2 linked regions of the Homo sapiens genome follow. The protein of the gene in region 1 interacts with the protein of each later gene in a pairwise test. Each region holds a gene or a part of one and is shown in the gene's direction. Other genes may lie near its edges.

What was found.
Region 2: the proteins of CACNB4 (region 1) and SYT1 interact in a two-hybrid assay, tested with the Homo sapiens proteins (one study listed by IntAct).

The regions. Positions count from the first base shown.
Region 1 is NC_000002.12:151,840,369-151,844,198, reverse strand, and holds part of CACNB4 (voltage-dependent L-type calcium channel subunit beta-4), read left to right. Parts: intron 1-2,110; coding exon 2,111-2,296; intron 2,297-3,830. UniProt on the Homo sapiens protein: The beta subunit of voltage-dependent calcium channels contributes to the function of the calcium channel by increasing peak calcium current, shifting the voltage dependencies of activation and inactivation, modulating G protein inhibition and controlling the alpha-1 subunit membrane targeting.
Region 2 is NC_000012.12:79,297,986-79,301,815, forward strand, and holds part of SYT1 (synaptotagmin-1), read left to right. Parts: intron 1-1,398; coding exon 1,399-1,566; intron 1,567-3,830. UniProt on the Homo sapiens protein: Calcium sensor that participates in triggering neurotransmitter release at the synapse. May have a regulatory role in the membrane interactions during trafficking of synaptic vesicles at the active zone of the synapse.

The DNA.
Region 1 (3,830 bases):
CACTTTATGCTTCTTGAGCATAAGATGTCTGTTTTCCTTGCCACTGTATACCCACAGTGCCTAGAAGAAAATAGGGACTGAGTATTTTATGAATGAATAAAATATGCAAAATAATCTGAAATCTACTAATAACTGTTCTTGGTTGGGGGGAATTTTCTACATGAGTTGAACTGGCTAAGTCTTCTCAAACATGAGTCCATTTGGACTGAAGTCATCTTATTCTTTTCCTAGTCTTGTTCCAAGAACCCCAAATGGCTTTCCAATTTAAGGCCAAAATTTTCCATAAAAATTGATGTGATGAAACATTTAAATAGTAAATGTTGGGAGAGAGATTGTTTCCATGGTGACTTCTGCTTCAGGAGTCCTTGTTCTAAGCACAGAAGAGAATGACTGAACTGAGACACCACTAACTTCACATCATCCAGTTGCCATTAACCTAATTTCAGCCAGCTTTATCAGTGCCGATGGCAGTGACCCTGTCTTTGATTCATTCCTGGGAGGTTCTTATTTTGGTAAAATGAGTTCATAAAAGCAGATGAAGGTGGTGGGAAAGGTCAATCCTACTATTGAAAGTTGAGATGTGAGCCGGGTGTGGTGACTCACGTCTGTAATCCCAGCACTTTGGGAGGCCGAGGCAGGAGGATCGCTGGAGCCCAGGAGTTTGAGACCAGCCTGGGCAACATGGTGAGATCTCATCTCTACAAAAAGTTAAAAAAGTTAGCCAGGCACAGTGGTGCATGCCTGTGGTCCCAGCTACTCAGGAAGCCGAGGTGGGAGGATCGCTAGAGCCCAGGTGTTCCAGGCTGCAGTGAGTTGTGTTTGCTCCAGTGCACCCTGGCCTGGGCCACAGAGCAACACTGTCTCAAAGAAAAAGAAAGAAAGAAAGAAAGTTGAGATGTGCTAACACTTACCTGTGGAATGACTTTTCTCTTTGTGTGGTGCCAAAGTTTTCTGGTTTCCCTCTGAAGAGTATATGTCTGGGGTATATCCTGTCTGTGTTCCCAGCCACACTGCAATGACAGGGGGGCCACCCTGCTCCTCTGGAACAGAACAACTTCCTGAGTACAGACCAGATGTTGAACAATGGCCTTACTGTCCGAAACGTGGACAGCAGATACTTCTTTTGTGACCCCCTGCTTTCCCTAACTAAACACCCCTTGTTCTTTTTTAACCATTTCACAAAATGATCTTGTGGTAGCAGAAACCACTGCCATGTGGTTTTCTGTTATTAATCCTAAACTTTCTTTCCTTATTGTTTTATCATAAAACAGATAATGTTATTTTCACAAGCATTCTGAAAATTACCTAAGTAAATGTTATTCCCTTCAACATAGTTACCTTAGGAGAAAAAATGTTTATTCCATTGATGTGGTCATTGCCCAAAACATGTCTAGAACTCCCTTCTCAGTGCCACAAACTTGCTTCTCTCATATTCCAAAGTGTGTAGAGTGCAGCTCTATAGGAATACATGGCTAAAGATGTGAATACACGTGGGTTTTTGTCATATTTTACCTGTAACACATTTACACTTACTTCATCTTTTTCTTTCTAAATAATGAAAAATCCGGCTGGGCGCTGTGGCTCATGCCTGTAATCCCAGCACTTTGGGAGCCAAGGCAGGTGGATCACTAGGTCAAGAGTTCAAGACCAGCCTGGCCAAGATGGTGAAACCCCATCTCTTCTAAAAAAAATACAAAAAAATTAGCTGGACGCAGTGGCAGGCGCCTGTAATCCCAGCTACTTGGGAGGCTGAGGCAGGAGAATTGCTTGAACTCAGTGGACAGAGGTTGCATTGAGCCGAGATCGTGCCATTGCATTTCAGCCTGGGCAACAGAATGAGACTCCGTCTTAAAAAAAAAAAAAAAAAAAAAAAAAAAAGATCCAAATATTGAATGAACACTTTCATTTTTATATTAATGTCTACATTCGTTCATGGATAACTGTGTAACTCTTCACTTGACCCTAACTTTAGAAACTGCCCATATAGCACCTCAAATTTGATTTTAGCTAATAGCTATTAAAAATGCTATTATCTGTGTTAAGTGGAATTTTAGGTTTCATTGCCTAAAACCTAAAATGGAAGTAAAGTGGATTTTCTTGTCATCTACAGGAAATGTTTGATGTTATATTGGATGAAAATCAGCTTGAGGATGCATGTGAACATCTAGGGGAGTACCTGGAGGCGTACTGGCGTGCCACCCACACAACCAGTAGCACACCCATGACCCCGCTGCTGGGAAGGAATTTGGGCTCCACGGCACTCTCACCATATCCCACAGCAATTTCTGGGTTACAGGTATTGTCACTTTTTCACTCATGCTTTTTACAACCTTACATGTAAAATTCTATGGGAACTTGATTAGGATGGAGACTGGAGTCATCCTTAATCTGAAGAGGGAACACTATGTGCACATTATATTTAAAAATCTTAAATATTATCTAATTATGATCTATCCTAGAGAAAACTACCCAGAGACTGACAATTTCCTGAGAATTATGCTGTCTGTGAATTTACAGTGGATTTTACTTAGGTAAATTAACTCCTCCTATGTCTAAACTCTGCTGGCAAACGTAATGCCTACTCAATGCACCTGCCCATTACTTTTTTTTAGAGACATAGTCTCACTCTGTTGTTCAGGCTGGAATGCAGTGATATGATCATAGCTCACTACAGCCTCAAATTCCTGGACTCATGGGCTTATGCAGTCCTGCTGCCTCAGCCTCCCAAATAGCTGGGACTACAGGCACATACCACACACATGGATAATTAAAAAAAAAAAATTGTAGAGACAGTGTCAGTGTCTCACTTTGTTGCCCAGGATGATCTCAAACTCCTGGCTTCAAGCAATCTTCCTGCCTTGGCCTCCCAAAATGTTGAAATTACCATCATGAGCCACCACTCCTGGCCCCTCCATTACTTCTTAATGCCACTTCTTAAGGATTACACAATAGCTAAGTAAGATATATAGGTGCAGATAGGCCTTTCAGCTGCCCTTAATTAATCCTGCCGCACCCAGGTTGCTAGGCCTGCTCTCTACCTTGCACAAGACAATGTGGATATAAGTAGAGCTGCTCTGTTCAGAAACAGTAACTGATCCCTGAGTTTTCTTGGGGCTGTGCAGGTGCCCACCTTTGTAAGTGGCTGTGGCACGTGTCCTTTAGGGAAGCTGGTGACGAACACAGGATCAAGAGGTTCTCCCTTCTGCTGTTCTGGTATTGCACTCAGAGGTAGAGATAGGGAACCAGAGACCTTATGGTACAAAATGAGCCTGCCTTTCTACATCAATTATTATTTACCATTCATCAAGTAGCTGCTGGAATGTGGCCAAACCCGCAGCAAACTGAGGAACATGTAGTCAATTGAGCCCTCTTGTATCATGATGAGTTTTGTTTTAATGGATTATAATGATAGTCTTAATTGTCGATCATACAGAGTTAACTCTGAGATAAATGGCACTCTCTGAAATGCTATTATAGCTGTATTACTCTGTTACAAAATTGCATCTTTGTAAGCAGAAAAACTGTCATGCAAATGAATAGCTTTTGAAACTAGAAATGAACATGAAAAATGTACTGTGGTAATGTACAGCACATACGCATGCATTAGGACTATTTCATGCCTTGTTTCACTTCCCATGGGCTGATCTGAGTGTACATTACTATTGACTAGTGTGGATTGGCTCTGAATTGTACATTACAGAATGAGAAATAGATGCATGAAGCAATACACTTCTGTAATGTACGTAGAAATGCAATGTTGCACTTTTATATTGAATACAACAATCTTGACTCATCACTGCTAAGACATCCACCTAGAGTGGTTCTCCCTG
Region 2 (3,830 bases), on another chromosome or scaffold:
AAATAGCCCCATGAAGCAGCCATTATTACAGTATTATCACAATTTAATAGATGAATAAACTTATGTTTAATCACGTGCCCCAGGCCCTTTAGTTGGAAAGTCCAAATCTGGTACAAGGTCTGTCTGACCCCAAGTCCAGGTTTTTGACTGTTGCTCTTTGAGTACAATCACTAGAAAGTCTAGAGAGATTTTAGATATACAATAACATTTTCAAGGGTTTATCCTTACTCTAAAAAATTTTGTTTCTTTCTTTGAGAGTCAGCTCTTTGGAAGGGTTTATTTTCCATTCCTTCTAAAATGGAAAAAGGATGATGCTTACTTTTTAATCATATCATTTTAATAAAATAATCAGGTTCCAAACAGATGGTAAATAAATGACAGAAAAGAAAAACTCTTTGGAAAACTAAAATTTCTTGTATGTAGATGGCCCAATATTCTTCCTTTTCTTCCCTCCTTAATATACAGAGTTAATTGAGAAATGTTTGCTGAAGCATAAGACAACCATTTACACTGATAAAATAATAGGAAGTGTATGAAAATTGATCAAACCTTTAAGACAAGTCTAAACAATTTCTTAATTAGGTATTTCTACCCAGTTACTGAAGTGTAGCTTACTTGGATTGCACTGCTTTCACTGAATATTAAAAATGTCACTAATAAACATCCCAACCCATAGCATCTGTCCCAGATATATTTGAACAGCTGGAGAATTCATCAGTTCTTGGCCTTTTGCCACCACTCATCCTAAGGCATGTCATACCCAAGAATGAACTTCAAAACCCATATTATAATGCACCTCTTATATTCAAAACATCAATTTCCTAGTCAGTTCTTGTCAATCAGCAAATTATTTTAGGGAGTAGGTGAGGCACTTGTGAATATCATTTCAATCCTTTCAGACTCCTAGCATAGCCTTTAATAAATCATTGCTCCATTGAACTGTGGCATTTAAATGCCTTGAAAGAGTTAATGGAGCATTTGAAATAAGTTATTTGCCCCTCAGTAAGTTACACCCTGACAATACAACTTAAAACAACAATAACAACAAAATATTCTACAAGAAAAACTTACTTATAGTCAAATGCAATTGGCTTGTTTATTGTTTTATTAATCTTAAGGCTTTATAGTATAACTAACAGCAGGATCCATTATTAATAATGCTAACAGCTTCTAGAACTTTGAGATAAGGCAATAAATCACTAAAATTTCCCATTTTCTCTCAAGTAATTTTAGCCTCAAGCAGTTTGTCAAAAGTCTGAATTTAAAAAATAACCAAAAACAAAATTATCTCCCTGTTCTGTTTATGCAACGTAAATATTAAATTAAGCACCATGAACAAGTAACATGTTTTAAGCATTTTTGTGACTGGATATTTTATCCTCATGTCTTTTAATTTAGGTACCATACTCGGAATTGGGTGGCAAAACCCTAGTGATGGCTGTATATGATTTTGATCGTTTCTCTAAGCATGACATCATTGGAGAATTTAAAGTCCCTATGAACACAGTGGATTTTGGCCATGTAACTGAGGAATGGCGTGACCTGCAAAGTGCTGAGAAGGAAGAGGTAAGGGAATTACTAGCATTTCTAACATCACAAGCTGTACTCGCCAGTTGCTGCTCATATAATAACTTATTGAGAAATACTCTTTACAAAGGGGGATGTGGGCCTCTAGTTGTTGACAGCTGATAAAATAGGGTCAAGGGCACTGCACCACCTCGTTAAAAAGTGTACAGGTCTTCTGGGTGTTATCTGAAAGAAGAGAGACATTTGTGTACTGGATCTAGAAACAGCAACCCTGGACACAAACAAACACACATGCCCACAGGAACTCTTTCTAAAAGCTTACAAAAGGCCACACACACTCATAAACTACTGCTTTAAAATGACAACGAAAAATTATTTTATTTCTCATTTTTCCACAATCATTTTGTGTTTTCTGCATAGGTTATGTAGCTATTACACAGAAATAAAATGGTACTTTTTCCTTGATTGTTTCTGCATATCACAGACAGTTCATTGTTTCTCCTAAAGATACGAGAGCATGATTGGTCAAACATCAAATATAATTCACAAAGCCTGATATTAAATCCATTTTTTAAATGACTCACATTTTTATGCTACTCCTCACATTGTTTATTCCCAGTTTTAATAGTTTAGCCCAGTATTTTTCCATGACTTGAAAAGGGAAGTTCAATATGTTTAGTGCATTTAAGCTTCATAATAATCAATTGTATCTGATTATGCGATGCCTGCCTGGCACCAGCATTTTTCTCTGCAAACATTTCAGTAGACCAATACTAGAAAAGCAAACAACCCTTAGCTTCTCCAAATTCCTAAAACAACTCCTTTCGCAGTCACTCTTTAGTTCCTGACGTAAGGCTGTAATTACGCAAGAGATTGCTGACAGCTCAGTCATTTAGGATCTCCAGGTCCCTAGGATTCCCTGGCCTCTTGGGGTCACCAGGGAGATCAGAGAGAACGTCAGGCCTTCAGAGAAACTCAATCAAGTCCATCACCTGGGAATCCTCTCAGCCTAAGGTTTTCTGTGACCAATCTGAGGCTATGAACTTTATACCCCCTATATGATGAAATGAGGTTTTAGAACAGGCCTATTAATTCCCATGCTGAAATTGAACTTTTCACTCTAACATTGCTGTTTGCTATTTGATTTTACAAAATGAGTCAAAAATACTTAAGTTAAACTCTGCTCTTTTTTTTGGAAAAAAGTATGTATACTTATACTTTCCAAAAAAGAGAGCAGAGCTTAAGTATTTTTGTATATAATATTCATGTATACTTATTATATATATATATATATATATATATATATATATATTTACTGTCTCAATATCTAAGAATGTTGACTAACCTTTCTTAGACATTGACACAGATTTAGCCCTACTGTGGATATTCAAGAATACCCAGGAAAAATACCGAGTTTTAAAATTATATGATTTTATGGATAGTTCTTTCCTATAAGTGAACTAATAGTAATGTTACAGACATCTTCATGAAAAAAAAAATTCGATCATTCAGTTACAATGTTTATAATTATTTAACAAAGTAGTGGGATGTTTCATTGACTTTTTTGTTGAAGTGTTTGACTTTGTGTAAATTTTTTGGGTGATAAAGTAGGACCATAAGAAATGTTTATTAACTGATTGGTTTTATTAATTGACTGGTGTTTGGTTGGCTTGTTGGTTGAATATGAGAACATGAACCACTGGTACTTCACAATGCCCACTTGTGCAGGGTGCATGGTTCACACTTGTTACTTTCACCTGGATAATTATCAGGTGGTAATGACATCCAAGATCACACCCAGTGGGTTTCTGAAAAATTGTGCAATGTTTTTTTCTGAGCTAAGGGAATGTGGACCATTGAGCAAGTTTCCTCTTTCAGAAATCTTTGAGTACGAGCAGAGTTTGAAACTTAACACCAGGCTGACGGGTTTCACTCTAGAATCTAGGGGTTTAGGTAAACTGCCCATTCAGAATTTTAACCTAGAAAGTGGCCTAACATGATTTACCCCTTATCTTACTTACCGATGAAATAGAATAGAACATGAAGTACCCAGCATAGAGTCTGGCATATGGTAAATGTTCACTAAGTGAGAGGTCTCTCATACCTTTTTCTTGGTTAATTTTGTGTGTGTGTTCTCTTTCCCCATTTTGTGTGTTCATCTCCTCATTTGTTGTGTCTCTTCCCTCTATTTTTATCTACTTCGCTATCCTTTTTCTCACCATTGCACTTACTGAGTATCTGTAGGAGTTATTAATGGGAAATATTAATTTTATCATTACACTCGTAAAACTCTAGAGACTTTC